Regions from separate parts of the Homo sapiens genome. Here all the other regions are linked to region 1. The links come from fine-mapping of genetic effects on gene expression. A gene starts in region 1. Each other region holds a variant in brackets. All regions are shown on one strand. Distances are from middle to middle.

Evidence for each region.
Region 2: its variant is fine-mapped to the expression of PRPSAP2 in whole blood (TOPMed, PIP above 0.99).
Region 3: its variant is fine-mapped to the expression of PRPSAP2 in skeletal muscle (FUSION, PIP 0.95).
Region 4: its variant is fine-mapped to the expression of PRPSAP2 in gastroesophageal junction (GTEx, PIP 0.98).

The regions. Positions count from the first base shown.
Region 1 is chr17:18,854,144-18,862,246 of GRCh38, forward strand. PRPSAP2 (phosphoribosyl pyrophosphate synthetase associated protein 2) reads left to right here and starts at 3,988. Exons shown (of 12, transcript NM_002767.4): 1 at 3,988-4,118. RefSeq lists enhancers at 1,839-2,339, 1,858-1,907, 1,928-1,987, 3,767-4,339 and a silencer at 4,086-4,445.
Region 2 is chr17:19,287,796-19,295,898 of GRCh38, forward strand. All of the region lies in intron 4 of EPN2 (epsin 2), which reads left to right. Among named protein-coding and RNA genes, the nearest start is that of EPN2-AS1, 14 kb to the right of the region's middle. RefSeq lists an enhancer at 1,825-2,418. The variant A/G (reference allele first, on the strand shown) is at 4,942.
Region 3 is chr17:18,878,934-18,887,036 of GRCh38, forward strand. It overlaps PRPSAP2 (phosphoribosyl pyrophosphate synthetase associated protein 2), which reads left to right. Exons shown (of 12, transcript NM_002767.4): 7 at 3,635-3,750. Among named protein-coding and RNA genes, the nearest start is that of PRPSAP2, 25 kb to the left of the region's middle. The variant C/CT (reference allele first, on the strand shown) is at 4,470.
Region 4 is chr17:18,740,407-18,748,509 of GRCh38, forward strand. It overlaps FBXW10 (F-box and WD repeat domain containing 10), which reads left to right and starts at 3,648. Exons shown (of 14, transcript NM_001267585.2): 1 at 3,648-4,343; 2 at 7,535-7,699. The coding sequence starts at 3,839. RefSeq lists an enhancer at 6,210-6,504. The variant T/A (reference allele first, on the strand shown) is at 3,906.

The sequences.
Region 1 (8,103 bases):
GGCCTCCTTGGCTGGTGACCTGGCTTTGGCCTCCGCTGCCTCCTACAGCCAGGCAAGCTGCCATCCTCTTCCACTGGGGAAAAAGGGGTGCCTTGTTTTTCTTCCCTGATAGCCAGACAGGCGAGAGCAGAGAGGCAGCTGCAAAAGCTTCCTCGGTGCCTCATACTCATGGACTCCATCTAAAAGTAACTCCTCACCCCCAACCATCATATGGCTGCTAATATTAGTGCTCATTTTTCCACTGAGGAAACAGAAACTTAGAGAGGTGGATCTGTCCAGGGTCATTTCCACAATGAGGACAGGAGGCAGGAAGCAGGCTCCATCCTAGTGATGGACACCTAAGTCCCTGTTTTTTCATTTGCACAACCATTTGAAGGAGAATCCTGTGTTTTTTGTTACACCATACTGCTCAAAAATTTCTATCAAACTATAGCAAAGATTCCTTTCCTTCCTTTAAAAAATGTTGAAGGGAAATGTCTTAGACTTGAGTATCTTGATTTATAGTCGATATACAGCAGTTTAGCCCTTGAATATGGCCAATGACGTGTTGCAGCAAGCTGAGCACTTCTATTACATGCAAAGACTCTGACTGCAAACATCCAAGTGGGCAAGGGATTATCAAGTTTAGCAATGGACTAACCAAAAACTGCATTCGTGTGGAACTGACCACAAGCTTTACATTATGCTTTTGCTCCTTTCTTGCTCATTACCCATTGTATAACAAAATATGCCCAGACTTGGGCTTTAATAAAAAATTTCTTAGCTCTCAATTTTTTGTGGTTTGATTGGTCTTAGCTAGGTGGCTCTTGCTTAGGGTCTTTCATAAAGTTGCAGTCAGGTGGTGGCTGGGGCTGCAGTCACCTGGTGGGTCAGCTTGGCTGAACACCTACCATGGCACACTCCTATGGCCTAAACCCCAAGGATAAAGAGAATGAGAGTTTTGACATCAGCCTACAAGGGATTTCAATAGTCCTTGGAGAATGGATGGCGGATGGAAGAGTGGTATTGCTATAACAGAACAAATGAAACTACAAACTAAGTGCCTGCAGTGCGGGAAACTATTGAGGAGCAAGCCACCCCACTGCAGAACCCTGGACGCGGTGATACACTGGAGCTAGCTCATTCTGGTTAATGAGAGTGGATTTTTTAAAAAATTCAAGGCCAGGTGTGGTGGCTCATGACTGCAATCCCAGCGTTTTGGAGGTCGAGGCGGGAGGATCACTTGAGCCCAGTTCGAGGCGGCAGTGAGCTATGATTGCACCACTGCACTCCAGCCTGGGCAACAGAGCAAGACTCTGTCTCTTAGAAAAGTTTTTTTTTTTCCAGTAATATTATTCTTGTATGGTGCAAACACTATATAATGCTGCGCTACTGCCCATTTTCTTTCCAGAAAGGATAAGGCACTCAATTTTCCAGACATTTCTTGAGTACCATACTTGTGCCAGGCCCTGGGAAACAGTGATCAGCAGGAGGGACGAAGAGCCCACCCTCATGGGGCTTACAGTGTACAGGGGCTGAGGTGGTGATATTTGTCAAATAACCACCCAAACACTTAATTAGAAATCGTGATAAGCCCAATGAAAGAAAAATACATGAAACAGTTTTATTTGGGAAGGGAGTGGTTTAGGGAAGACTCGAAAGTGACAATGGAGCTATCAAGTTCAAGAAGGAGTTAGTAGGGGAGGAGGCTGCAGGAAGAAGTGCACGCCTGGAGGCAGGAACAGCATGTGTCCCGGTAGTTCAGGGTGGCGGGCCCAGGCGGGTGAGAAAGGGCAATGGAGAAGGAAGGAGAGGAGACCGTGCAGACACTGCAAGTGCCAGAAACCCGATCCACACTGGCTTCAGAGGGTGGAGGGGAGGTTCTTCTTGGCTTCCATAATAGAAATGTCCAGGGACCTACCGACTTCAGATTCAGCGCAAACTCATCTGGGCCCGGTCTGTATCCCTCCCTCTCTTTTCTCTCAGCACTTTCCTCAGGCGGTTCCCCTCCTGGCATCCCAGCAGCTGCAGCATCAGCAGGAGAGAGTAAGCCTCTCCAGTCCCGGCGCAGGGATGGAGACGGTGTTTCGTGGGCTCCGATTGGCTCAGTAGCCTATCTTTGGAGCGAATCAGCGAGCGGAGAGGGATGAACTTCTCTGACTGGCCAGATCCAGTCACATGCCAACATGTGACGCGTGGAATCTACGCCAGCCACAGCAGAGAGGTGGGGGTTGTGACCGGAGTTAGATGCCAGCGCAGAAGGGACGTGAGCCCAGCCGAGGTACCGCTGAAGAGGAATCAATTTTGGTATGCAGATAATCACTGGGCTCATGGGTCTTGCTCTTTACAAAGAGGTATGTCCCTGTAAAGTTGTCAGGCAAAGGAAATGTTTCAAACGACTCCATTTCACGAAGTCTCACCTAATTTACAATTCGTTAGTTGAGATGCTTGTATTCTTCGTTTCTAAAATAAGACGTTGAACCATAAAGACTCTAGCTAGCTCTGCAACCTCTGATGAATATTTCATGCCTCATTATTGTGAAAAATCCAAAGCAGAATTGGAGAGAAGATGTGGTATAGGGATTAGGTAAGTGAAGACTGGTGCAAAGCCTCCTGGGTCGAAATTCTGTCCACTGCTTTGTCATTGGAAAAGTTATTTAACGTCGTCGTCTCAGTTCCCACAACTATTAAAATGGAGAGGATAACAACACCTACCTTATGCTCTTGTGAGGATTAAATAAGTTACCGTTAATATATGTAAAGCACTTAAAAGAGGACCATGTGTTTGCTATTATTATGTTATACATACAATAAAGAGTAAACATTACCTAAGTTATAAAGAACTTAGGCAATGGATACCAAAAGTACTAATTCCTTTATAATAAAAGAAAAAAAGGCGACAAGGCAAATAACGATAATAACTGATAATGGCTGGGCGCGATGGCTCACGCCTGTAACCCCAGGACTTTAGGAGGCGGAGGCGGGCGGATCACTTGAGGTCAGGAGTTTGAGAACAGCCTGGCCAACATGGTGAAACCCTGTCTCTACTAAAAATACAAAAAATTAGTCGGGCGTGGTGGCGCACACCTGTAATCCCAGCTACTCGGGAGGCTGAGACAGGAGAATCGCTTGAACCCGGGAGACGAAGTTTGCAGTGAGCTGAGATCGCGCCGATGCACTCTAGCCTGGACAACAGAGCGAAACTCCGTCTCAAAACAAAAAACTAACAAACGAACAAAAAACTGATCATTTATTATACACCCAGAACTGTGCTTTTAGCACAGTTTTGTTTTGTTTTGTTTTGTTTTTGAGATGGACTCTTGCTCTGTCACCCAGGCTGGAGAGCAGTGGCGCGATCTCGGCTCACTGCAACCTCTGCCTCCCGGGTTCAAGCGATTCTCCTGCCTCAGCCTCCTGAGTAGCTGGGATTACAGGCGCGCACCACCACGCCTGGCTAATTTTTTTTTTTTGTATTTTTAGTAGAGATGGGGGTTTCACCATGTTGGTCAGGCTGGTCTCGAACTCCTGACCTCGTGATCCGCCCGCCTCAGCCTCGCAAAGTGCTGGAATTACAGGCGTGAACCACCGCGTCTGGCCGTATTGTCTCATTTAATCCTCACAACAGTCTTATGGAATGGGTGCTGCTATCTTTGTTTTTCAGATGAGGAAACAAGCTCAGAGGGTTGAAATGACTTGTCCAAGGTTACAGGCCAGTGGAGGCTTGAACCCAGGTATTTGTAATTCCAAATGTCATACTCTGTCCACATTCATTCCTTGTAACCTGCCTGGGCTGTCACAGTTGGTGTGGGGCTAGCAGCTCCCCAGGGACCAAAACAGGCGCATCCCCGCCCACCGCCCCGCCCATCGTGCCAGCCCGACTCCACCCCTGTGGCTACACCCACTGCCCCGCGCCTTACCCACTGGTGGGCCACGCCCACAGCCCCCAGCTAGGTGCCTCCGCTGTCCGGGCTCTAGTCCCGCCCTCGCCCCTCCCCGCCCACCGGCCTCGCAGTCACCGCGGACGCCAATCTTGTGCATGGAGTCGCCATTTTGCTCCTAGAGAGGCCGCCAGGAGACCCGGCGCTTTCTTCCTTCTGCAGCTGAGGCTGCGGCGGGGCCGGGGCTGGGGTCGGGGCCAGGTAGGCGGGCGGGAGCCAGTGGCGAGCGGCAGCGAGGGCTGGCTGGCTCCGGCATTGCGGGGCGCAGGTGCAAGGGGCGGGGAGCCCGCGGCGCCGGCAGGCGGACGGGTCGGGGTCCCTGGGTGGTGGCTGCTTGGGGGCTCACTGGGGCGATCTCGCGCCCGCGGCCCTTCCATTTTTCCCTCCCTTCTTCCTCTCCCGCCAGGGGTCGGCGGGGGCGGGGGACGGGCGTCCGGTGCCTGGGCTCTCTCCTCTCCCTGAGGCGCCGCTGGGGAGTCGAACCCTGATGATGGGACCTGTGGTGAGCAGCCCTGAAAGCAAGCCCAGACCCAGCCATTCTCCGTCCCTAAGCTGACACGGAGCCCCTGATTTTAATTTACCTGGCTTTGCTAGTTACGAATATATCTCTCACCTCCTAAAGGATGATTTTATCCAACTCAGAACTCACCCCAGCAGAGATTGAGGGGGAACCGTGATGAAATTTTTAAGTATTCTGCTTGATGATAATAATTTTTCTCTTATGTTAATGTTGGCTCCGTTTGGGTGTTTAGCTTTTGAAAGGAGTATGAAAATGCGGAATGGGGCTTTGGGGCTTGAGGTGTGATCTCTAGTGTTTAAAAAATTTAATTGCACAAATAGAAATAATTCACCCACATTATTGAACCCCACTAAAGCATATCCTTTTTGTCCATATTCCTTTCCTGCTGCCCTCGTGTGTACCATTATTACTCAGTTGTGATTTGAGCTCGTTCCACTTAAAGTCATTCATAGATACTTTTGCGTCGTGTTGAATATTTATTGAATTTCTATTCTGTGTTTTACTTAATTACTTTATTATGGAACCTTTACACAGGTCTGGTGTACTTGTTCTTTGAAAAGTCTTATGTTGACCACCATCACTGAGCATATAGCTTTTTCCTTATTTCCTTGGGATAATTACCCGAAGTGGAAATACCGAATCAAACTTCTGTTTTCTTTCTTTGGCACTATTATATAAATTGTTTTCCAAACAAGGCATGTTTACAATAGACATTTTTCAAAATCTGGGTATTTGTCCTATTTTGCTCTCTGTATGCAGAATTCAGCGGGGTGCCAAGTCGTTTTCTGTGTGGGTTGAGAGACAGGCTGTGCAGCCCACTGTTGCATAGGACTAACTACTACAAATCATGCTGAGACCGAGCTATTTTTGCTGCTTAGAGGCTTTGCAGCCTTGAGTAAGTTTCTTCATCTGGAAACCTAGCTTCCCTGTCTAAAATGGGTCTCATTCTAGTGCTTGCTTCACTGGGTTGTCATAAGCATTGTGAACACTCAGATGTTAGGCATGAGTTAACATTGTGTTGGAGAGATAAGCAGAGCCTGGGATCATACAGGAGTGGAAGAGTAATTCGGTTTAGAATTTGCCCTTCAAATTCTCATCAATATTGATATTAAAAACAGATTTCCTTGGAGTGAGGCACATCACTAATAAACATACATAATAAGTTTTTTTATTTTTATTTTTTTTGCAGAGTCTTGCTCTGTCTCCCGGGCTGGAGAGCAGTGGCGCGATCTCAGCTCACTGCAACCTCTGCCTCCCGGGTTCAAGCGATTCTCCTGCCTCAGCCTCCTGAGTAGCTGGGATTACAGGCATGCGCCACCACGCCCGGCTAATTTTTTGTATTTTTAGTAGAGACAGGGTGTCACCACGTTTGTCAGGTTGGTCTCAAACTCCTGACCTTGTGATCTGCCTGCCTTGGCCTCCCAAAGTGCTGGGATTACAAGCGTGAGCCACCATGCCCATCCAATAAACATAAATTTTTATACTTTTTAATTTTTTGACACAGAGTCTTGCTCTGTTGCCCAGGTTGGAGTGTAGTGGCGCGATCTCAGCTCACTGCAACCTCTGCCTCCCAAGTTCAAGCGATTCTCCTGCCTCAGCTGCGCAAGTAGCTGGGGTTACAGGTGCATGCCACCACACCTGGCTCATTTTTGTATTTTTTAGTAGGGGTTTCGCCTTGTTGACCAGGCTGGTCTCGAACTCCTGACCTCAGGTGATCCGTCCACCTTGGCCTCCCAAAGTGCTGGGATTACAGGCCTGAGGCACTGCGCCTGGCCGGTTTTTATACTTTATGATGCCTTTTAGTTCATCTTTCAATTTCATTTGTTAATCATTGTGACTCATTGAAGTCAGGCATTATTCAGCAATCATTTGTTTAGCCTCTACCGTGTGGCAGCTGCACAGGGTATACAGCAGAGAATATCATGGTAAAAAATAGTCTCTGCTGCCTGGACCTTAAATTCTGATGGGGAAATCTTTTTACCAAGGTTATATCTCTTGTCTGGAAGGTAAAGGCTGAGGCCCAGCAAGGACAAGTGATGTCCACATGGCCTAGTAGCTGGAAGGCAAACCCAACTCTTCACACTCCTACTTCAGCCATCTTTAAGTAGAAGGTATTTACACAGTAGATGCTTTAGAGGGAAGACAACACACTTCAATGTGAGTCTTCCCCATCTGAAATGTGGGTGAGTGGTTTTGAAATGACTGCTAGTCTGTCCAAAGGAAATGATCTCTCAGTGTGGTTTCTTCATTCATGAGACTTAACATTCTAAAATCTTATTCAAAAGAGGAGTATGATTTGCTCTTTAAAAGGTGCTAAGATTCTCTGAAAACGGTGTGTTTTCATACATGTTATAAATAATTCTCACACATTCTAGAGTAAATTTAGAATAAACATAAAGCAGTTATAGCTCATGGGGAAAATAAGGGAGTGTTCTCATTTCACACTAAAACCTTGTGCTAACAAGCCTCCTGCCAGCCCCATCTCGATGATTATTATGTTTTTGAGGATAGTCTTTATAACTCTTTTCTTGAAGCTTGGTAAAGAACACAGCCTTAATTACCAACAGGAGAAAGGAGAACTAAAACTACAAGCAGGCATTATGGCCGGGCGCAGTGGCTCATGCCTGTAATCCCAGCACTTTAGGAGGCTGAGGCGGGTGGATTACCTGAGCTTGGGAGTTTGAGACCAGCCTGACCAACATGGAGAAACCCTGTCTCTACTAAAAATACAAAATTAGACGGGTGTGGTGGCGCATGCCTGTAATCCCAGCTACTCAGGAGGCTGAGGCAGGAGAATCGCTTGAACCGGGGAGGCGGAGGTTATAGTGAGCCGCAATCGCGCCATTGCTCTCCAGCCTGGGCAACAAGAGTGAAACTCCATCTTAAAAAAAAAAAAAAGAAAAAAAAGAAAAATAAACAGCCCTTATGTTTGAATAACTTGTGAAGTGAATAGTCACAAAACATGACTATGTTGATAGTCATTTCCAAGTGGATGCTCCCCAGTCCACTCCACCATGTCATTTTGAGGGTGGTCTTAGGTTAGGATTCTATATAGAAGCCTATATCTGAAGTCTAGAACGTCAGAGACCACATGCAGGGTGTTGCAGGCCATTTTAAACCATGAGAGATAAGGAAAGACTTCAGGAAATATCCTGGAAAAAATATACAAAGGCAGGAGAGCTATCTTGAAATAGTTTGGAGGCCATCCTGTGGAAAAGGAATTTGATGTTTCCCATAAATCTCTAAGGAGAGTACAAGAACCAGTGGGCAGAAGCTGCAGGAAGAGGAATCTCAGCATGTTCTTTTGTTTGTTTGTTTGTTTGTTTTGAGACAGTCTTGCTCTGTCACCCAGGCTGGCGTGCAGTGGTGCAGTCTCTACTCACTGCAACCTCCGCCTCCCAGGTTCAAGCGATTCACCTGCCTCAGCCTCGTGAGTAGCTGGGACTACAGGTGTGTGCCACCAGGCCTAGCTAATTTTTGCATTTTTAGTAGAAATGAGGTTTCACCATGTTGGCCAGACTGGTCTTGAACTTCTGACCTCAGGTAATCCGCCTGCCTCGCTCTCCCAATTTGCTGGGATTATAGGCATGAGCCACGGCGCCTGGCCACAGCATGTTCTAAGGAAGAATTTGGAATGATGGGCCCTCAGCGGATGTGGGCATCAGA
Region 2 (8,103 bases), 430 kb after region 1:
CTCTTGTGTGACTGGCGATAATCATGAGGATGTCTGAGGAGAGCTTTCTTTCATGTGCCATATGTCATCTCATCCTCCCTGTGCCCCTCCCTCTCTCTCACCTCCCACATAGATCTGTAGATCTGACCTTGGAAGTCTCTTGAATTGTCCATCTTGTTCCATGGCCTCAATTCAGTGCCAGCCTTCTGACCAATTTCCTGCTGTCATTATCTCCCAGTCTCACCTACCCTCCATCTTCATAAAGGATGCCCTGGTCCTGAGTCTCAGCCCCTTTAGATGCCAGGCCCTGCAGGGCCATCCCAGAGCCTTTGACGTTGCAGACCTCAGTTGCTTCCACCAGCTGTGTCCCCTGCCCTCAGTCTGGGGGTCCTCCTGTTCCGGCGGAAGCATTCCAGACCTTCCCAGGCCTGCTGACGTCTGCCTGCAGGCACAGCTCTGGGCTTTCCTTTTGAAGCCTGGTCTACCTGCCCTCTGCTCTGTATTTATTGAGTTCCCATGGGGCACCAGGCACTGAGCACAGAACAGAGCCCCTTGCCCTCGTGGAGCTTATATGGTAATGGGAAAGAAAAACACAATATAAATTATTCAGCATGTTATGTAATGAGCGCTCTGGAAAACAGCAAAACAAAAACAGTCTTGCTTGAGTGTCTTTGGGGAGGTAAGAGAGGGTGGCTTGCAGTATGAATGGATCAAGGATTGAAGGAGTGTGAGGGTGAGCCTTGTGGAGGTTGGAAAGAGCCTTCCAGGCAGAAGGGCAGCTGTGCAAAGGCCCTGAGGTGGGAGTGTGCTCAGGGTGTTTGAGAAAAGGCAGCCAGTGAGGTGGCGATGAGTGACGGAGCATGGCCAGTATGTGGGGGTGGAGCGTGGCAGAGGTGGGCCTGGAGGAGGTGTGGGGCAGGGCCTCTCAACTCTGTCTGGTTGGGAGCATTCCTTGAATTCCTAGTCCATCCAGACGGGTCCTTTTGTGTCCATGTTTAGATGTTGTGCCGATGTCATTGCTAGGAGCTTTTGAAACACTTTCACTGTGCTTACCTTGCAGACCATGCACTCAGTGGCCCGGTGCTGGGCCTTCTGGGTTTATGTCAGAAATTTCTTTGACTTTCACTCACAGTGAGATGGGGGAAGATGAGGGTTAGGAGGATCCCTTGGGGTGTGTATGGGCAAGGTGGGAGCAGGGAGCCAGGTCAGGAGGCCACTGTCCCCATCCAGGTGGGAGATGGTGGGGGTCTGGACCTGGCAGGGCTGCAGAAATCTGGGCAGTAGCCAGGTTCTGGGTATGTTTTTTTTTTTTTTTTTTTTTTTTTTTTGAGACAGAATCTTGCACTGTCACCCAGGCTGGAGTGCAGTGGCACGATCTCCGCTTACTGCAAGCTCTGCCTCCCGGGTTCACGCCATTCTCCTGCCTCAGCCTCCCAAGTAGCTGGGACTACAGGCGCCCGCCACCACGCCCGGCTAATTTTTTGTATTTTTAGTAGAGATGAGGTTTCATCATGTTAGCCAGGATGGTCTTGATCTCCTGACCCCGTGATCCGCCCACCTTGGCCTCCCAAAGTGCTGGGATTACAGGTGTGAGCCACCGCACCTGGACGATTCTGGGTATGTTTTAAAGATGACCTGACAGACCTTGCTAGAGGACTGGGCAGAGTGAGAGGGGAGCTGAGGATGACTCTGAGGGCTGGGAGCAGAGCAGCTGGAGGCAGAGCTGCCATCATCTGAGATGAGGGCGGCTGTGGGTGCAGTAGGTTAGTGGAGGGGTTGAGTTCAGGACACATCGAAGTGTCTCCTAGACACGCAAGTGGAGGTGTCAAGAAGGTCTGAGAAGTCTGGAGTTGGGGGGAGAATTCTGGGCTGCAGGCACACTTTGGAAGTTGTCAGGGCATGGACAGTGCTTATAGCCGTCAGCTGTTCGGCCTCACCTGGCGCTCATGGTTTTTTTTTTTTTTTTTTTTGAGATGGAGTCTCACTCTGTTGGCCAGGCTAGAGTGTAGTGGGGTGATCTGGGCTCACTGCAACCTCCGCCTAGCTGGCTTCAAGCTATTCTTCCTCAGCCATCTGAGTAGCTGGGATTACAGGCACATGTCACCATGCCTGGCTAATTTTTGTATTTTTAGTAGAGATGAGGTTTCATCATGTTGGCCAGGTCTTGAACCCCTGACCTCAAGTGATCTGCCCAGCTCGGCCTCCCAAAGTGCTGGGATTACAGGCGTGAGCCACCATGCCTAGCCTCTGGCACTCATGTTTACTTGGTGGTCTTGTAATTTCAGACACACCAGCTGCCCTCCCAAGGCTGGCTCCTCTTAAGGCTTACCCGTGTTGGCTGCCCTCACATGATCCTGGCATGTAGTCAGTGCTCAGGACAGTTGTGTGTGGGCAGAAGCTGCGCAGCCCAAAGGAGGACCCTCAGGCCCAGGGGGTTGAGGGATTTGCCTAAGATCACGCAGAGATGGCAGCTGGCCTGAACTGCAACCTGGTGGGGGTGAGCAGCCCACATGTTACCCGCCCCCCGGGCTCTTTCCACCATTTCCTGTTCTGTTCTGCAGAACTGGCCACAGTGTCAAAAGGCTTTGGAGAAATTACAGAAGTTCTTGGGGTAGACGGAACCTACATCAAAGGGAGGCAGATGGGGATGAGAAAAGCATTCCTGAGTCAAGGAATGGAAAGAAAGATTGCTGCTGTCCTCTCACCAAGGACACTCTAAGGCCAGGGGCCAGATCTTCTGCCTTGGCTGGCCTCTGTTGAGGGTGGGTAAGGGAAGGAAGGAATGCTCAGCTTGGTGTTCTCAGCCCCCTTGCTGAGTCTGCGGAGCCAGAGCTACAGCTGTCTTGATGCTCCCTGAGCAAGTCCCGAGTTGCCTGGTACCTTGCAGTTCTTGGTGGGAGTTTAACTGCCCAGCATTCCCGTTCTCAAAAAAAAAAAAAAAGAAAAAAAAAGAAAAAGGAAGGCAGGCAGAATAGAAATCTTCATTGCTTTCTGATTCACTCAAGTGAATCAGAACCAACTTGGGTTCTGAAACCAAAGTAAGCAGTGGTGGGCTTTGTACCAGGTGGGGGCTGCTGCCTGCAGCCGGGTCTTCTTGGCTCTCCTCATGGCCCCTCCTGTCTTGCTGACGCCGCTGGCCCTGGCTGTAGTATGCTTCAAGTCTGCTCCCAGAGAAATGACAGGGATTCCTTTGGGCTACTGGTCCTCTGGGCTGAGAGCCCCTTGTGCTGAGGCTGCTCCTCTCACACCCCACCCGGCAAGGGTTTGCCAAGTGATTACTAGAAAGGATTTGAGTTGGCTTATAAAACACATGCAATGCCACAGGATTCAATAGATACCAGAAGAAATTGGGGCAAAAGGAAAACAGAGGTGAGAAAGAAAAGCCAGGATTGTATACAGTGGCTAGAGATGGATCCAAATTTGGTTTGATACTGTGCAGCTGGGAAGGCCAGAGTGTCAAGCAGCCTGCCCAGGACTTCATGGAGCAGTGGCCGTGATCATTGTCCTGCGGCATCACCCCAACAGCTGCTGCTGCTGTCCGCCAGGCCTTCGGGCCATGCCTCCACTCTCGAGTGGCCTGGCAAGAATCTAAGGGGAAACAGGATTTCTCAGGGAGTGGAATGGCAAGGCTATCCACGGTTATCAGCCATTCATTTTTTTTTTTTTTTTTTTTTTTTTTTTGAGACGGAGTCTCGCTCTTTCGCCCAGGCTGGACTGCAGTGGCGCTATCTTGGCTCACTGCAAGCTCCGCTTCCTGGGTTCACGCCGTTCTCCTGCCTCAGCCTCCTGAGTAGCTGGGACTACAGGCGCCCGCCACTGCGCCCGGCTAATTTTTTTTTGTGTTTTTTGTAGAGATGGGGTTTCACCGTGTTAGCCATGATGGTCTTGATCTCCTGACCTCATGATCCACCCGCCTCGGCCTCCCAAAGTGCTGGAATTACAGGCGTGAGCCATCGCGCCCGGCCTCATTCTTAAACCCAATGGGGACTTGGTAGAATTTGAAAGCTTTCTTGTGCGCTGTTTCATGAGTATGTCCAGGAAGTCCCCAGGCACAGTGGGCCCTCAGAGGACTCTCTACGGAAGCTGTCTTCATAACAAGGGAACCTCAGGGGTGAACCAGAGTTGTCATGGCCTCAGCCCTGCTTGCCCAGCTCTGGGAATAGAGCTGAAGCATGCGCACACACAGACACATGTGCACTTACACCAGACATGTACACACAAAGGAGAGTGTTTTGGTAAGAAGGAGGCATCTGAAAAGGGAGTCCTACATGGGTCTACTTTTGAAAACTCAAAGATGTGGGAAAATATATTGTTAAAAAAAAGAAAAGCCAAACCCAGCCAGCGTGTCAGAAGTGCTTCTGAGGTGGACCTTGGAAGGATCCTGGGCCAGCTGAGGTCTCCTGAGAGTGTGGGAGGTGACAGAGCTCCAAGGTGCAGGGCTGAGTGATGCTGCCAGGAACTAGGAGGGCAGCAGGGCCCGCCCGGGGCTGAGAGGTGGTTGGTGGCCACCAGCCAGGTATTTCCTAGTGTCAGGCCAGGGATAGCTACCTGTGGGGAGTGTGTCTAGCCCTCAGGGCCCTTCCATTGGGTTTTGGGGATGGACCAGGAATTTGGTGGGAGATGAGACTCATTTGGCATCTTGTTTTGGTGGAACAAATGTGTTCTGTAAGTCAGGGGAGCCCTGCATCTTCGGCTGGCAGTCAGTCCCAGGGGCAGAGGCACAGCAGGGCTGTCAGCGTTAGCTTACTCTAGAGAGAGTTAATCTCTTCAGGTGGAAAATTGAGTCATGGAGGAAGCTGATCAGTAACATGAACACACCCTCAGAGGCAGCAGATTTATTGACACATCTATCCAAGTATCAGGTATAAAAGATGCTCGTTCTTGCCACAAGGGCTTGGGTTTTAAGTGGGATTTGAATGTGATTCGTGAATGGCTGGGCTGCTAAAGTCAGACAGTTGCCCA[A/G]CACAACCAGAAGGCATCTGGATCACCTCTCCTGGGCCTTTGCCTTCTCTTAGGAGGAGTCCATTTGCTTCTCACAGTTGTCTAGAAGGTAGGCAGGGCAGATGAGGTTAATAAGGAAACTGACATGAACTTGCTCCCCTAAATCCTCTCATTTGTAAGTGAAGAAGCTAGAATTAGAACTGGGATTTTGAAGAACTCTGGTTCTCTTTCCTCTACTTGACAGTTTTTGAAATTGCTTTAAAATTTTTTCTGCAAAATAGGCAAATACGGTGTACACCTATTACAATTTTAAAATTATATGGTTCATCTTATATAATGCTTTTTTCTGTATTATTATTTTTTTCTTTTTAAGATGGGATTGGCTGGGCAGGGTGGCTCACGCCTGTAATCCCAGCATGTTGGGAGGTTGAGACGGGCAGATCACCTGAGGCCAGGAGTTCGAGGCCAGCTTGGCCAATATGGTGAAACCCATCTCTACTAAAAATACAAAAAAATTAGCCGGTCATGGTGGTGGGCACCTGTAATCCCAGCTACTCAGGAGGCAGAGGTGGGAGATTCGCTTGAACCTGAGAGGCAGAGGTTGCAGTGAGCCGAGATCACTCCAGCCTGGGTGACAAGAGCGAAACTCCATCTCAAAAAAAAAAAAAAAAAAAGACAGGGTCTTGCTCTGTTGCTCAGGCTGGAGTGCAGTGGTGTGATTGTGGCTCACTGCAGCCTCTACCTCCCTGGGCTCAAGTGATGCTCTCACCTTAACCTCCTGGGTTGCTGAGACTACAGGTGCATGCCACCATACCCAGCTTTTTTTTTTTTTTTTTTTTTTTTTACTTTCTGTATTTTGTAGAGGTGGGGTTTTGCCACGTTGCCCAGGCTGATCTGGAACTCCTGGGCTCAAGCTATCCTCTGGCCTCGGCCTCTCAAAGTGTTGAGATTACAGGCATGCAGGCACAAGCCACCACACTCAGCCAGGAATACCTAATTAAACCATTATTTAATTGGGCCCCAGATCTTAAGGAGCTCCTCTGATTGTCAGAATATGGGATTGTTCTCAGAATTGAAACAGTGCTATCAAGGCTGGGCGCGGTGGCTCATGCCTATAATCCCAGCACTTTGGGAGGCCGAGGCTGGTGGATCACTTGAGGTCAGGAGTTTGAGACCAGCCTGACCAACATGGTGAAACCCCTGTCTCTACCAAAAATACAAAAAATTAGTCGGGTGTGGTGGTGGATGCTTGTAATCCCAGCTACCCAGGAAGCTGAGGCAGGAGATTGCTTGAAGCTTGGGAGGCAGAGGTTGCAGTGAGCTGAGATCGCACCACTGTACTCCAGCCTGGGCAACAGAGCAAGACTCTGTCTTTAAAAAAAAAAAAAAGAAACAGTGCTATCAAAATTGCTGATTGGGAGGCCGGCTGCAGTGGCCCATGCCTGTAATCCTAGCACTTCGAGAGGCTGAAGCAGGTGAATTGCTTGAGCTTAGGAGTTTGAGACCAGCCTGGACAACACAACAAAACCCCATCGCTACAAAAAAAAAAAAAATTAACCAGGCATGGTGGTGTGCACCTGTAGTCCCAGCTACTTTGTGGGGCTGAGGTGGGAGGAATCGCCTGAGCTCAGGAAGTCCAGGCTGCAGTGAACCAAGATTGTGCCACTGCATTCTAGCCTGGGTGACAAAGCGAGACCCTTTCTCAAAAGAAAAAAAATATTGGGGATTGGGTTATTGATTAAATGATTGACATTGGCGTGTGCCATAGAAAATGGATCAATACAATATTTACCTGTTTTTTAAGGATCCTTTGTAGTATAGGTAAACAAACTATTGTTTATAAACTGTCAATAAGTGTAGAAGGTTTCTCGATGCTTTAAGGTTGAGTTTAGCAACAGTATGATACATAGTTGTTAGTTTTTGTTTAGTGATACAAGGCAGTTCCTCATTTTGACAGTTGCCTTTTCTTTTTTCCCTAAATCACTAGCTCTCAAGCTTTTAAATCTCCCAAAATGTCCCAAATCCTGGGCCACACCTTTGCCACACTTCTCAAATGAGAATCTCTGGGAGGGCCCCAGGTACTGCGGTGGCACTGACAGCATTGTACTGGGGGCTGCTGGTTCCCTGTCAGATGTTTTAAGTCAGATTGGCTAGCATAGTCACAGCTGCTGACGGTGTCTTTATTCATGGATGCTCAGTACAGCAGTTGCTAGTTTCAAATAGACAACTTCCAGGAGGCATTAAAAAAAAATTATATGACTAGAAACAGGAGGGAAGGCATGCAGATAGATTTGTCTTCCCATGGGAAGTAGGCCATATAAGTTAAATCTCTCTCTGTATCATATCCTTTTTTACTATCTTCAGAGTCTTTTTCACTACCTGAAATTCTCTTATTTGCTTTGTTTTGTCTCCCTGCACTAAAACAAGCTGTTAGAGCAGGAGCCCCGTTCATGCCCCGTGCTGTATCCCTAGTGTCTTTAGCACAACACCTGAACCAGGAAAGGTGCTCAGAACATACTTCATGCATGAGTGCTAAATAAGCCTCTCTTCTCCTCTCTCCTCACCTGAGGGCAGGAGTTCGAGACTAGCCTTGCCAACGCAGTGAAACCCCATCTCTATTAAAAATACACACACACACACACACACACACACGCGCGTGCGCGCAAAATAGCCAGGTGTAGTGGTGCATGCCTGTAGTCCCAGCTACCTGGGAGGCTGAGGCAGGAGAATCACTTTAACCCAGGAAGTGGAGGTTGCAGTGAGCCGAGATCGTGCCATTAGACTCCAGCCTGGGTGACAAGAGTGAAACTCCCTCTCAGAAAAAAAAGAAAAGAAAAGAAAAAATACATTTGAAGTCAATTCCAGAAATATAGGAATGCCTTATATATTTGTGTGGTTTCTCGATGCTTTAAGGTTGAGTTTAGCAACAGTATGATTCATAGTTGTTGTTTTTGTTTAGTGATACAAGGCAGTTCCTCATTTTGACAGTTGCCTTTTTTCCCTAAATCACTAGCTCTCAAGCTTTTAAATCTCCCAAAATGTCCCAAATCCTGGGCCACACCTCTCCCACACCTCTCAAATTAGAATCTCTGGGAGGGCCCCAGGTGCCGCGGTGGCACTGACAGCAGTGTGCTGGGGGCTGCTGGTTCCCTGTCAGGCTTTAATCAGTTGAAGGGCTCTTCC
Region 3 (8,103 bases), 25 kb after region 1:
ACCTCGGCTCACTGCAACCACTGTCTCCTGGGTTCAAGCGATTTTTGTACCTTAGCTTCTCTAGTAGCTGGGACTACAGGTGCCTGCCACCACACTCAGCTAATTTTTGTATTTTTAGTAGAGATGGGGTTTTGCCATGTTGGCCAGGCTGGTCTCGAACTCCTGACCTCAAGTGATCCACCTGCTTTGGGCTCCTAAAATTCTGGGATTACAGACACAAGCCACCATAGCCAGCCTGAATGTATATGATTTTAGAAGGTATGTATCACGGAGCATTTGCACAGAGTGAATAGAATAAAAGTCCCCATATCACTGCATTTTAAGACAGGTACTTACTGTAGAATAAACCTTTTTTTTTGTTTGTTTTTTGAGACGGAGTCTTGCTCTGTTGCCCAGTCTGGAGTGCAATGACGTGATCTTGGCTCACTGCAACCTCCACCACCCGGGTTCAAGCAATTCTCCTGCCTCAGCCCCCAGAGTAGCTGGGATTGCAGGCACACACCAACATGCCCAACTAATTATTATTATTTTTATTTTTTATTTTTGAGTCTCACCTGTCATCCAGGCTGGAGTGCAGTAGCGTGATCTCGGCTCACCGCAACCTCCACTTCCTGGGTTTAAGCGATTCACCTGCCTCAGCCTCCTGAGTAGCTGGGATTACTGGCGCCCACCACCACGCCTGGCTAATTTTTGTATTTTTAGTAGAGACGAGGTTTCACCATGTTGGCCATGCTTGTCTCGAACTCTTGACCTCAGGTGATCCACCTTCCTCAGCCTCCCAAAGTGTTGGGATTACAGGCGTGAGCCACCACGCCCAGCCCAGAATAAACTTTCTAAGATAGTTTTTCAGTAAAGGCAAACGTAAAACAAACATTTAAAAACTAGGCAGGGTGTGGTGGCTCACGCCTGTAATCCCAGCACTTTGGGAGAACCAGGGGGCGATCACCTGAGGTTGGGAGTTCAGAGCAGCCTAACCAACATGGAAAAACCCCGTCTCTACTAACAATACAAAATTAGCCGGGTGTGGTGACACATGCCTGTAATCCCAGCTACTCGGGAGTCTGAGGCAGGAGAATTGCTTGAACCCGGGAGGTGGAGGTTGTGGTGAACCAAGATCATGCCGTTGCACTCCAGCCTGGGCAACAAGAGCAAAACTCCGTCTCAAAAAAATAAAAATAAAATTAAAAACTCAACCCGAAGCAACCTCAGGAGCCTACCCCATTGTAAACACTATGACAGGCAGCTGGTGAGGAGAGCAGGCTTGCCTGCTGAATCTTCAGGAAAGGGCCCATCTTCTCTACCAGCCTTGCTTGATGGGCCTCCAGACTTACTTTCCTGTTCTTTTGGGCAAGTAATGCTTTAAACAATTTTTCATACTGAATTTTCCTTACACTTTTCTGGTGATCGTTACAAAGGTGGTGAAGGTTTTCTGTTTTCTCCAATTTCCAGGCTGGTGCAGTTTGTCTTGATATCTTTTTTTTTCCCCATGGGTCTCAGTCCTCTTGCCCGGGCTGGGGTGCAGTGGTGTGATCACTGCTCACTACCAGGAGGTAGCCTTGACCTCCTGGGTTCAAGTGATCCTCCGACCTTAGCTTCCAGAGTAACTAGGGACTACAGGCATGCATCACCATACCTGACTAGTTTTTTGTATTTTTAGTAGAAATGGAGTCTCACCATGTGGCCCAGGCCATTTTCAAACACCTGGGCTCAAGTGATACTCCTGCCTCGGCCTCCCAAAGTGCTGGGTTTACAGGCATGAGCCACCACACCCGGCTGACTTGTTATCTTAAGACTGGACTTTGCCATGCCTGTTAAACTTCAAGAAGATTTGATCTGCTCTAATATAATTTTTAAAGACTCTTCTGTATTACTGTTATCTTTGCTATATTATGACTATTTTTTATTTATTTATTTTTTCGAGATGGAGTCTCGCTCTGTCGCCCAGGCTGGAGTGCAGTGGCATGATCTCAGCTCACTGCAACCTCCACCTCCTGGATTCAAGTGATTCTCCTGCCTCAGCCTCCCTAGAAGCTGAGATTACAGGCACATGCCACCACACTTGGCTAATTTTTGTATTTTTAGTAGAGACGGGGTTTCACCGTGTTGGCCAGGCTGGTCTTGAACTCCTGACCTCAGGTGATCCGCCTGCCTCAGCCTTCCAAAGTGCTGGGATTACAGCTGTGAGCCATCGCACCTGACCAAGACTTTAAATTGATGTGAAAATCAGGCATCTCACAGTACTAAAAAAAAAAAAATTTTTTTTGAAAAATACAAGTGCTGAGTTTTTTTGATGGTAGAACAATTTTGTCTTTTTTTTTTTGAGACCAAGTCTCCCCCTTTCACCCAGGTCGGAGTGAAGTGGTGCGATCTCGGCTCACTGCAACCTCCGCCCCCCCAGGTTCAAGCGAATTCTCCTGCCTCAGCCTCCCGAGTAGCTGGGATTATGGGCACGTGCCACCATGCCTGGCTAATTTTTGTGTTTTTAGTAGAGATGAGGTTTCGCCATGTTGGCCAGGCTGGTCTCCAACTCCTGACCTCAGGTGATCCACCCGCCTCGGCCTCCCAAAGTGCTGGGATTACAGGCGTGAGCCACCGTGTCCGGCCTTATTTTTTATTTTTTTGAGGCAAGATCTCACTCTGTCACCCAGACTGGAATGCAGTGGCTCAATCTCAGCTCACTTGCAGCCTTGACCTTCTGCACTGAAGCGATTCTCCCACCTTAGCCTCCTGAGTATCTGGGACTACAGATGTGCGCCACCATGCCTGGCTAATTTTTGTTTTGTAGAGGCGGGGTTTTGCCATGTTCCCCAGGCTGATCTCAAACTCCTGAGCTCAAGCAGTTTGTCAGCCTTGGCCTTCAAAGTGCTAGGATTACAGGCGTGAGCCACTGTGCCCGGCCATGAGAGCAATTTTTTTTTTTTTTTTGAGACGGAGTCTTGCTCTGTCACCCAGGCTGGAGTGCAGTGGCATGATCTTGGCTCACTGCAACCTCTGCCTCCCGGATTCAAGCTATTCTTCTGCCTCAGCCTCCCAAGTAGCTGGGACTACAGGCACACGCCACCACGCCCAGCTAATTTTTGTATTTTTAGTAAAGATGGGGTTTCATCATATTGGTCAGGCTGGCGTTGAACTCCTGACCTTGTGATCCACCCACCTCGCCCTCCCAAAGTGCTGGGATTACAGGCGTGAGCCACAGTGCCCGGCTGGAGAGCAATTTTTTAATAGTAACTTATTGTATATAGTATTTTATGTAGTACCTATTTTATACAGTGCAACTTGTTTTTAAACTGTTTATAGGCTGGGTGCAGTGGCTCATGCCTGTATTCCCAGCACTTTGGGAGGCTGAGGCAGGAGGATTACTTGAGGTCAGGAGTTCGAGACCAACCTGGCCAATATGATGAAACCCCTTCTCTACTAAAAATACAGAATTATCTGGGCGTGGTGGCATGCACCTGTATTCCCAGCTACTTTCAAGGCTGAGGTGAGAGGATTGCTTCAGCCTAGGAGTTCAAGGCTGCAGTTAGCTATGGTCATGCCACTGCACTCCAGCCTGGGTGACAGAATGGGATCCCATCTTAAAAAAAAAAAACAAAAACAAAACTATTTATTGCTTGTGTCTGCTTTATTTTCAAAGGTCTAACTCATCTTATTACTATGGATTTACACCAGAAGGAAATTCAGGGCTTCTTCAATATTCCTGTTGACAATTTAAGAGCATCTCCCTTCTTATTACAGTATATTCAAGAAGAGGTGAGCTAGCTCAAACTTTTTTATTTTAACATTCTGATTAAGGTTGAAAGATGTATTTCCATTTCCTTAGGATACCCCTAAAGGATTAAAACTTGATGTATTGTACTTAAAGTACCATTATACTTTATAGCTATAATCCAACGCATTTTAGAATTCTGAATCTGCAGTTTGTTTCTTTAGATAAGCTCTTAAAATTGCTTTTTCTTTTGGACCTCAAGTACCTAGAATTGGACTAGATATGATTGTAATGAGTAATTTACTCTCATTACTAGTCTATGCTTGATCCTGGTTCTGTTTTATGTATCCATCTATCCATCCTGTCTCTCTGTCCATCCAGTTATAATAGCCAGCATCCATGATCCCACCTCCCAGCAAGAAAACTAGAGTCATCATCATAACTTAGAGCTGCTCATGGGCTCCTTCTCTGTCCTATCCCCCTGCCTCCTTCCACCCTAGGGAACCACTGTCCTGAAGCGGTGCTGAATCTGTCAGATGCTTTTTCTGTATCAGTGGAGATGATCATTTTTTTTCCTTCATTCTGTTAATGTGGTTTATTACCACCCTTGAATCCTGGGATAAATCAGATGTTTAATTTTAATATAGCTACATTTGTTTTTCTTTGATATGAGTTAGCATTTTTGTGACTTACTATTTAAGAAAGCTTTTAAAATGTTAATTTATACTGTACTTAGCTATTTTGCTTTTAGCTGTTTTTCTTT[C/CT]TTTTTTTTTTTTTTTGGTGGGGGGTGTGATGGAGTCACTCCCAGGCTGGAGTGTAATGGCGCAATCTCAGCCCACTGAAACCTCCACCTCCCGGGTTCAAGCAATTCTCGAGTAGCTGGGATTACAGGCATGCGCCAACACAGCTGGCTAATTTTTTGTATCTTTAGTAGAGATGGGGTTTCACCATGTTGGCCAGGCTGATCTCGAACGCTGACCTCGTGATCTGCCTGCCTCGGCCTCCCAAAGTGCTGGGATTACAGGCATGAGCCACCGCACCTGGCCTTAGCGGTTTTTCTTATATAAATTATTTCTCTCTTTAATAACTTTTCTAGATAACTTCTTTTTACAGTACTGTATTTAAAAGAAGATAACTTCTTTTTACAGTACTGTATTTAAAAGATGGCAGTTTATAGGTTTCTGAGGAACTTCTTTCTGGTAAGAATACAGGGCTTCCCCATTCTCCAGCAATTGTTATAAGTCCTTATAGAGAAAATGAATTTAAGTATTTTTGAAAGAGAAAAATGTAAAATATTCTGCTTTTTTTTTTTCTTTAAAGTTACACACAAGAAACATAAAAACTCTACGCCAGGCGCAGTGGCTCACGCCTATAATCCCAGCACTTTGGGAGTCTGAGGCGGGTGGATCACTTGAGGTCAGGAGTTCAGACCAGCCTAGCCAACATGGTGAAACCCCATCTCTACTAAAAATACATAATTAGCTGGATGTGGTGGCGCGTGCCTGTAATCCCAGTTACTTGGGAGGCTGAGGCAGGAGAATTGCTTGAACCTGGGAGGTGGAGGTTACAGTGAGCCAGGATTGTGCCACGGCACTCCTGCCTGGGTGACAGAGCGAGACTATCTCAAAAAAACAAAAAAGAAAACAAAAATACTCTAACAAATTAAAAAAATAATAGAGACTTTAATTTTACCTGAAAAATTTTATGTTTTTTTTTTGAGACAGGGTCTTTCTCTGTCACCCAGGTTGGAGTGCTGTAGTGCCATGATAGCTCACTGCAACCTTGAACTCCTGGGCTCAAGAGATTTCTCCCACCTCAGCCTTCTGAGTAGCTGAGACTAGAGGTGTGCCACCACACCTAGCTAATTTTTAAAAAATATTTCCAGAGTCAGAATCTTGCTGTGTTACCCAGGCTGGTCTCAAACTCCTGGCCTCAAGCGATCCTCCTGCCTCAGCCTCCCAAAACAGTGTGATTACAGGTGTGAGCCACTGTGCCTGGCCTAATTTTACCTGAATATTATTCTTAGTTGAGAGAGAAGGTGAGATAAAATTGGCAAATGTCTTGATAGGGAAGGATGAAGAGGTTTAGGCAGAGAGAGAGTGAGAGGGTGAGCATTGAACGTGGTTCAGTTAGCAACCAGCCGCATGGAGAAACCTGTCATTTTGGAAGAAATAGAGCAGTCGCTATAGACTTATGTGGGTTGCTGTCGACATCTTGTTGTTTTAGGGGATGTTTCCATTCAGGACACAGGCATGTTGTGTGCCAATGTCTCAAGGCACAAATGGCAATTGCACCTCTTAAGGGATGCCCGGTGGGTGAGCCTAAAGAACGAAGGCTGGGGCACCCTTGTGCTGGTTGCAAGGTCAGGCTGGAAGCCTAACGCTAGTCATTGCCTGTAGTGCAGGCTTCTACCTGAGGATGACACTGCCTTCTACTTGAAAAAATCCCCATTTTAGTTTCATTGTTGAGAAGAAGTCAGGGCTGAGTGTGGTGGCCCACACCTATAATCCCAGCACTTTGAGAGGCTGAGGAGGTTGGATCAGTTGAGTCCAGGAGTTTAAGACCATCCTCGGCAATATGGCAAAACCCTGTCTCTACAAAAAATATAAAAATTAACCAGGTGTGGTGGTGCATTCCTGTGGTCCCCCCTACTCAAGAGGATGAGAAGTGGGAGGATTGCTTGAGCCTGGGAGGTTGAAGTTGCCCAGGTGGTCGAGGCTGCATCAAGCCGTGATCTGGGCGACAGAGTGAGATTCCTTCTCACAAAAAAAAAAAAAAAAAAAAAAAAAATTAATATGTGGGAACTCAGTGTTAAAAAGGAATTTTTGTGTATTGCTTTTTTCTTTTTTTTGGAGACAGTCTCTCTCTGTCACTCAGGCTGGAGTGCGATTTTGGCTTACTGCAGCCTCCGCCTCCTGGGTTCAAGCAAGCATATCTGGCTAATTTTTGTTTTTTGTTTTTTTTTGAGATGGAGTTTCGCTCTTGTTGCCCAGGCTGGAGTGCAATGGCATGATCTCGGCTCACAGCAACCTCCCCCTCCCAGGTTCAAGTGATTGTCCTGCCTCAGCCTCCCGAGTAGCTGGGGTTACAGGCATGTGCCACCACACCCGGCTAATTTTGTATTTTTAGTAGAGACAGGGTTTCTCCTTGTTGGTCAGGCTGGTCTCGAACTCCTGACCTCAGGTGATCTGCCCACCTTGGCCTCCCAAAGTGCTGGGATTACAGGTGTGAACCACCGCACTTGGCCTAATTTTTGTGTTTTTAGTAGAGATAGGGTTTCACCGTGTTGGCCAGGCTGGTCTTGAACTTCTGAACTCCAGTGATCTGCCTGCCTCAGCTTCCCAAAGTCCTGGTATTACAGGCATGAGCTACTACACCTGGCCTGTATTGCCTTTTTATAGTATACGTATCTTGTCTCTTTTGTTTTCGTGTGTTAGAGCCTCTTAAAGCAGGGGATAGATATTCATGTTTCACTGAATCTAAGGTGCTGTCAGTCCAGGCTTACATTATTTTACGTCACCAAGAAAGAAGAAAACACTGCTAATTATACTGTGGCACTGTGCCTTCTTGTCACTTAGTGATCCTATTCTGCAGGTTTTGATGCTGACGCTTTCTCCATCTCTTGTGTTTGTCACTGGAATTTAAGCACCTTCTGCCAGAGTCAGAAGGAACATTCTGGTACTAGGATGCTCGTTGCCTTGAAATTTTTGCCATCTATACTTTTTTTTTTTTTTGAGACGGAGTCTCACTCTGTCGCCCAGGCTGGAGTGCAGTGGCGCAATCTCAGCTTACTGCAAGCTCCGCCTCCCGGGTTCACGCCATTCTCCTAGGCCTCAGCCTCCCCAGTAGCTGGGACTACAGGCACCTACCACCACGCCTGGCTAATTTTTTTGTAGTTTTAGTAGAGATGGGGTTTCACCGTGTTAACCAGGATGGTCTCAATCTCCTGACCTAATGATCTGCCCGCCTCAGCCTCCCAAAGTGCTGGGATTACAGGTGTGAGCCACCGCGCCCAGCCAACTTTTGCCATCTCTTCTGAGGGCGTCTGACAGTGTCTGTTGCCTTCCGCTGCACTGCTGGGGATGTGTCAGGCAGTCCTTTTCACAGTTTGACCTACTGGTAGGGATCTTCCTTTCTTAAGTTTCATAAAGCATTTGATTGTTGCCTTGCAAGAAAATGTGGAATTGTATCATTTTTCCAGTGATGAATATTTGATTCATGAATATCAAATTATACTCTGATGGTCTCTTCCTGTGTCTTTCTGCATACATGATAATTTTTCTTTTCTTCTTTTTTTTTTTTTTTTTTTTTTTTGAGACGGAGTTTTGCTCTTGTTGCCCAGGCTGGAGTGCAGTGGCGCAATCTCAGCTCATCACAACCTCCGCCTCCCAGGTTCA
Region 4 (8,103 bases), 110 kb before region 1:
TATGCCCCCAATATGTCCATGCAGGGCACAGACTGTGCATGGCTCGGGTAGAGTGTTGGCCATCCCTGCCTTGCTGGAATGTGCCTAGTTTTTAATCTCTATTTCTGGCTTGCTCTGTAGTCTTGTTGGGAAAATCCCACTGTCTCCCAGAAGGAAGTAGTCCAAGTACTGGAAAAGGAGGGAGAACAGATCATTTCATAAGGACCAAGGGTCAATATAGCAGTGGTCAGTCATTTTAGGTGAAAAACCTTTCCCCCACATTAATAACTTAAGTAGTGACCCTGATGATCACCTGAAAGAAAGTGTGTATATATGTGCATGCGCTGGTTTCTCATGAACAAAAGCTTTTTAAATTTTTTTTTCTTTTTTTTTGAGACGGAGTCTCACTCTGTCGCCTAGGCTGGAGTGCAGTGGTGCTATCTTGGCTCACTGCAAGCTCCACCTCCCGGGTTCTCACCATTCTCCTGCCTCAGCCTCCCGAGTAGCTGGGACTACAGGCACCCACCACCACGCCCAGCTAATGTTTTGTATTTTTTAGTAGAGACGGGGTTTCACCGTGTTAGCCAGGATGGTCTCGATCTCCTGACCTCATGAGCCGCCCACTTCGGCCTCCCAAAGTACTGGGATTACAAGCGTGAACCACCGCGCCCAGCCAAGCTTTTTAAAATTCAACTTCCAACAAGTGTAATACCACATGATGGGAAGGCGAGAGATGAGATATCACACTTTTTCCACACTCCCTAATGATACTAATAATAATTGTTAGCTCCTCACATGGTGTAAAAGTCTACTCATTTGACCCCGACAGCCACCTATGAGCTAGGTAGGACCATGGTCTCTACTTCATGGAAGAGGAGCAGGCTGAGACTAGCAAGTGAATTATTCAGGCATATGAAGCTGCTCCGTGGCAGAGCCCAGTTCATTCCTTGCCCTCCTACTCTGAAACCTGTGTGCTTTCCTGAGTCCCTGCTGGCTGGCCAGGCCAGGTGGCAGCAGGGGAAGGCAAAGGGGCTGGGCTGGAGCCAGCAGAGGCTCAGGTCCTCTGGTGCAGTGTCAAGTGTGACATCAGAGCCGGATGGGTGTGACACATTGTCCTCTATCTGGCCCAGCAGCGGCCGCACCTTCCAAGCTTCTCCATACTATGTGGGAAGGCAGGAAAAGCAAGTGCAGATTTAGGGTTGTGTGCTGAGGAGGTTTTATCGGGATCGTGAATAAAACAGGGCAGAAAGGAAAGATAGGGGACTGGCATGAAGCCTCCAGGCTGCTCGTAGCCTAAATACTTGAGAGGTCGCAGATGTCCTTCGCATCCTATAGCCTTCCTCGGAGAAGTGCTCTCCCCCACTGGACTCCTGTGAGTCGGTCTGATGAGGCCTATTTGCCCACCTGCCTGTTTGAGTACCACTGGCGCCATGTCCCCGCATTGGCCTATCCCATCTGGCCCATCTATCCTGCCCTGTGCCAAGGCCGCATTTTTTTTTTTTTTTTTTTTGAGACAGAGTCTTGCTCTCTCGCCCAGGCTGGAGTGCAGTGGCACATCTCCGCTCACTGCAAGCTCCGCCTCCTGGGTTCACGCAATTCTCCTGCCTCAGCCTCCCGAGTAGCTGGAACTACAGGCGCCTGCCACCACACCCGGCTAATTTTTTGTATTTTTTTTTTTAGTAGAGATGGGGTTTCACCGTGTTAGCCAGGATGGTCTCGATCTCCTGACCTCGTGATCCGCCTGCCTCAGCCTCCCAAAGTGCTGGGATTACAGGCATGAGCCACTGCGCCTGGCCTAAGGCCACATTTTTAACTGTAACATCAGATCCCAAATGGCTTCAACTTCCCCCCAAAGTCAGGTGTATGGCCCAACCTCTGAAAGGTGCAGGCCAGCAGGAGGCAGGGAGGAAGGGAGTGAGGCGCTGTCCTCTCGCACTCACTTGCTCTAGAGCACCCCTTGTCCCTCTATTCTCAGGAGGCAGCCCGTTGTCATCTTCTCAAAGAAGCTGTTTAGAAAAGGAGGTGCCGAGGGGCAACAACATACTATGGTCCACAGGTGTTTGAGGAGAACCGTGTGTGTGCAGTGTTGAGGGAGAGGGGATAAGACTCATGTCTGAAATCTAGTCTCTCTGACTCCCAAGTTTGTGGCCCTGAAATGTGAAATAAAGACTGAGTTGGGTGATTAAAACTGCTTCCTTGGCCTGGGGTGGTGGCTCACGCTGTAATCCCAGCACTTTGGGAGGCTGAGGCGGGCGGATCACTTGAGGTCAGGAGTTTAAGACCAGCCTGGCCAACGTGGCAAAACCTCGTCTCTACTAAAAATATAAAACTCAGCTGGGCATGGTGGCCCATGCCTGTAATCCCAGCTACTCGGGAGGCTGAGGCAGGAGAATCACTTTAACCCGGGAAGCAGAGGTTGCAGTGAGCCGAGATGCCACCACTGCCCTCCAGCCTGGGGGATAGAGCGAGACTCTGCCTCCAAAAAAAAAAAATGCTTCCTTGAAGAATGTCAGCCTCATAGATTAAAATCCTAATTTATTTAAATCTTTAAAAACAAGCTATTTATAATCTGTCAATTATAAATAAACAAGTTAATTACGAAAAAAAAAAAAGAGCTACTTTTAGCTTGCAGCACTTCTTAGGGTAACGTGCTCGCCTTACAGATCCAAAGAGTCTGCTTCGGGCCTCCCTTCTCTTTGCCACCCTCCTTTGTCTGGCCTTCCCGATTAATTAAATATTAATCTACTCATGCCTTTTCTCCAGATTCCTCTTCAGACAGAAGAGGTTGAGCTGTGAGAACTGATCTCATTCTTAACCTGATTCTTATTCCCCATTCTGACCCTAGTATGTGACTGCCATTGCCAACAAAACCCCAGCGATGGACTCCATTACCTTTCTCTGGTTGTGCCTGGTCTTTCAACATGGGCATTAGAAAGGCACACAATATTGCAAACCTTTTGATTTTATCTAGGGTAATAATACTTAGTAACAGTAACAATAGCAGCAACAACTGATCTCATATATTTAATGCAATCCTAGAAGGTAGTTATCATTTTTATTACCCACCTTTATCTTCTCCATCCTCATAACTAGGATGGAGACACTGAGGCTCAGAGAGGACAGGTTGCCTGCTCGAGACCATATAGCTCCTAAGTACCAGAGTCAATGTTTGAACCGAGTCTTACCTGCAGTAGGAGAATTATCTCAGCATGACTTTGAAACTCTTTCTGTGAGCTGCCCAATATGTTTTGCCTGGGCCCTTTGACTACAGTGAGATTTCTGGTTAGTATTGTGAAGCAGTTAAATAACTTAAATTTACATTAAACATTTCTGGTTTTACTTTGATGATGACTTAAGAAAATGAATATAAACATATTTAGCATCATTGGGATAGCCAGTTTGTAACTGAACAGATATAAACATAAGAAGTTTGCATCTTATTTTATATTCATGAATATTCAGAAGCCATATATAACAACAATAATTAAAGTGCAATACCAGTAATAGTCCACATATTACTTAAATTTGACTAACAGTATTCTTGTTGTTCTAGAAATGAGATGACCAGCTCTTTCAGAATATACAGCAACTGCCTCCACATAAAGCAGTGCCAGGTTTAGGAGATTTACGGTAAAGCCATGTTTCCAAGGAGGTCTGTACAAAAAGCCAGACTTCTGCTGGCAGTTACTGAGAGAGATAGGCTTTCCATCCATGGCAGCCATTTACTTTTGCTCTGGGAGACGTTTGTAATAGAAAAGGCACAACTGGGGTATTTATTCATTCCCCCCGTTCCTCTAGTGTTTGGTGGCGTTGCCGTTGCAAGTGCGCAGGGCTAAAATGGACTGGTTATCTTAGGATCATGGAAAACCTGGAATCAAGGCTCAAGAATGCCCCCTATTTTCGTTGTGAGAAGGGAACCGATTCCA[T/A]CCCTCTATGCCGGAAGTGTGAGACGTGTGTCTTAGCCTGGAAGATCTTCTCTACCAAAGAGTGGTTCTGCAGGATCAATGACATATCACAGAGGAGGTTTCTAGTTGGCATTCTGAAGCAGTTAAATAGCTTATATTTGTTACACTATTTCCAAAATATCCTTCAGACCACACAGGGAAAGGATTTCATCTATAACAGGTCCCGGATCAACCTCAGCAAGAAAGAGGGGAAAGTTGTGAAGTCCTCCTTGAACCAAATGTTGGATAAAACAGTAGAACAGAAGATGAAAGAGATCTTGTACTGGTTTGCGAACAGCACCCAGTGGACCAAGGCGAATTATACTCTCTTACTGCTGCAGATGTGCAACCCCAAATTACTGCTCACTGCTGCCAATGTGATCAGAGTCCTGTTTCTGAGAGAGGAGAACAATATCTCAGGTAAACAAGGCCACAGGCAGAGACTAGAGGGCCCCCGAAGACCAGAAGGCAAGGCTTCAGAAATCTGTAAGGAACTGCAGTTGTAGACAACATAGGTAGACAGAGATTGCACAGAACTCAGCATAGGTTTTTTGAACTGACACCTTGTCCTGACACCCGATCCTGTTTACCAAAGGAGAAATGACTGAGTGTAACTTCCTTCTTGAAAATGATCAATGCAGGAGGAAGTACACAACTTTTAACTCACAAGCATTTATCATGGATTTCTGCATCTCATAGGCCCAGAAATGGCTGGTCCCTGCCCCTGACCCCTTAATGCTGGTGTCGTTCCTGCTTTAGGGATTGGACTGAGCTCGAGAGGGTTGTAAAGGGGAAGCTTTTGTTTTTCTCTTCAGCTGCCCTGCACAGAAACCAGACCAAGAAGTCAAAACTTAGGGCTTTTTTTTTTTTTTTCATTCACTCTACCATGCTCCTTGCTTATCCATGAAATGAAACCTTAAAGTAGAGTTTCTCCAAGGCTGGAGATAGCTTAAGGGCCAAATAAGTCTAGGGTGGTAGTTCTCCAGCTGTGGCTTGTATCAGGATCTCCAGCAGGACCTGTTAAAACAAGCTCCTCCCCCAGAACTTCGGACTCAGCAGGTCTGAGGTGGGCCCAGGATTCTGTATGTCTTTTCTTTTTTTTTTGAGATGGAGTCTCGCTCTGTCACCCAGGCTGGAGTGCAGTGGTGCGATCTTGGCTCACTGAAACCTCCACCTGCTGGGTTCAAGCAATTCTCCTGCCTCAGCCTCCCAAGTAGCTGGGACTACAGGTGCGTGCCACCATGTCCTAATTTTTTTGTATTTTTTAGTAGAGATGGGGTTTCACCATGCTGGCCAGGCTGGTCTCGGACTCCTGACCTCGTGATCCGCCTGCCTCGGCCTCCCAAAGTGCTGGGATTACAGGCGTGAGCCACTGCACTCGACCAGGGATTCTGTATTTCTAACAAGTTTCCAGCTAGTGCTGATGTTGCTGGTCTGGGGATCTGTCTTTGAGAATCACAGGCCTAGGGTGTTGGAGAATCTTGGAAGTGTTTGGCCAGATAGTTCAGGGAAGCAGAAGAAACAATAAGGGTGGTGTCTGTTTTGCTTTGCTATAAAGGAATACCTGAGGCTAAGTAATTTATAAGGAAATTTCTAAGGAAAAGAGTTTTATTTGGCTCACAGTTCTGAAGACTGTACCAGAAGCATGGCACCAGCATCTCTTTCTGGTGAGGGCTTCAGGAAGCTTCCACTTATGGTGGAATGCAAGGGAAATCAATGTATCATGAGGCAAGAGAAGTAGCAAGAGAAGGGGAGGGGTGTCAGTTTCTTTTAAACAGCCAGCTCTTGCTCGAACTATATTAATAGAGCGAGAACTCACTCATTACTGTGGGAAGGGCACCAAGCTATTCATGAGGAATCTGCCCCCATGACCCAAAAACCTCCCATCAAGCCTTACTTCCAGCACTGGGGGTCACATTTCAACATGAGATTTGGAGGGGACAAATATCCAAACTGTATCAGGAGGCAAGAGAATTGAGCTTTGGAGGGGTCCAGGAGTGGAAGGTCCAACATGGGGAAGCTCAGATTTAAGCAGAGGTGGGAGAAAGCTGGGAGGGGGTGGTCACATGGAGGCGTTTTGGAGTTTTAGCTCTTGAAGGTGTGTAATTCCTGTCACCAGTGCGACCTGACAGGTGGTCATATTTGTAGACTAGTGGAATCCAAAAGAATTTTAAAGCTGGATGGCCTAGGACACAATTAGATCACAATATATGTCACTTGATTTATTTGGTGTGTCAGGGGTATAGAAGAATGATAATATAGAATGAAGACACAGTGAATCCTAGGGTGTCAAAAACAGTAAGTTAGACTGGAGATCAACCGACTTAATATCCTTAATATTTACATAAGGAGACCAAAGTCCAGGGCATCTGACTTTGCTTAGGTCACCCACCACGTGGGCTGAAAACCAGGATCCCCTCCTGGGCCCCTTCCACTCTGGAGTGAGTGCTGCCAGCAGCGGAAGGCCTGGCTTGTACACACAGATGCAATGCTCCACAGTGCTCTTCCAAAACTTCATCCCATTCACCATAGGAATGGGCTATTTACACTGGAGTTGTGTTAAGTCCTATTACAGGTTGTGGCAACCTTCTTTTTTTTTTTTTTTTTTTTGAGACAGAGTCTCACTCTGTTGCCCAGGCTGGAGTGCAGTGGCCTGATCTTGGCTCACTGCTGCAAGCTCCGCCTCCCGGGTTCACGCCATTCTCCTGCCTCAGCCTCCCGAGTAGCTGGGACTACAGGTGCCCGCCACCACGCCCGGCTAATTTTTTTTGTATTTCTAATAGAGACGGGGTTTCACCGTGTTAGCCCGGATGGTCTCCATCTCCTGACCTTGTGATCCGCCTGCCTCAGCCTCCCAGAGTGCTGGGATTACAGGCATGAACCATCACGCCGGGCCAACAACCTTCTCTTTTCTTAGAGCAGATTCTCTCTTAAAAAATTAAATGTTCTGGTTGGGCGCAGTGGCTCACGCTTGTAATCCCAGCACATTTGGAGGCCGAGGCGGGTGGATCACCTGGAGTCAGGAGTTCGAGACGAGCCTGGCCAACATGGCGAAACCCCATCTCTACTAAAAATACAAAAAATAGCCAGGTGTCATGCACTTGTAATCCCAGCTACTTGGGAGGCTGAGGCAGGAGAATCACTTGAACCCAGGAGGCGGAGGTTGCAGTGAGCCAAGACCGAGCCATTGCACTCCACCCTGGGCAATAAGAGCAAAACTCAGTCTCAAAAACCAAAAACAAACAAACCAAAAAAAAGTTAAATGTTCTATTTTGACTCGAGGGTGGTTATTTCTATCATTGAAGAAAATTCAGCTTGAGCTTCCGAAGAGCATTCCCTGTTGCAATTCCTGACCTCGACTCTCTCTCTCTCTGCTTGTATAAACAACTCGAGAAATTTTACAATGGGGGCGTGCTGAAAAGCTAACAGGAAGCTTTCTGAGATTTTTGCATAGAAGTTTGGAGGCCCCAAATAAAAACAGACATAACTGCTCTGGTCCATTCTGTACATCTTTAAAAGAAGGAAGAAAAAATGAAAAAGTTTCTCTCCACCTCATTTTCCTCAACACACCCGCTTCAAGAGCAACCTTGTCTTGGTCTTCTGTGTTTCAGGGCTCAATCAAGACATCACAGATGTGTGTTTTTCCCCTGAGAAAGACCACAGCTCCAAGTCTGCGACCTCACAAGTCTATTGGACAGCCAAAACTCAGCACACATCCCTTCCTTTGTCCAAAGCCCCAGAAAATGAACACTTGCTTGGGGCAGCATCTAACCCTGGTAAGTGAACTTTCAGCAAGAAAGCCAATATGGGCTAGGTGCGGTGGCTCATGCCTGTAATCCCAGCACTTTGGGAGGCCGAGGCAAGCAGATCATGAGGTCAGGAGATCGAGACCATCCTGGCTAACACGGTGAAACCCCGTCTCTACTAAAAATACAAAAAAATTAGCCAGGCGCAGTGGCAGGCACCTGTAGTCCCAGCTACTGAGGCAGCAGAAGGGCGTGAAGCCGGGAGGCAGAGCTTGCAGTGAGCCGAGATCATGCCACTGCACTCCAGCCTGGGCAACAGAGCGAGACTGTCTCAAAAAAAAAAAAAAAAAAAAAAAAGAAAGCCAATATGCAACCAATGTGAGATTGGGAAGACCCAGTGGAACTGGAGGGGCTGGCAGGGTGATAGCATCTGG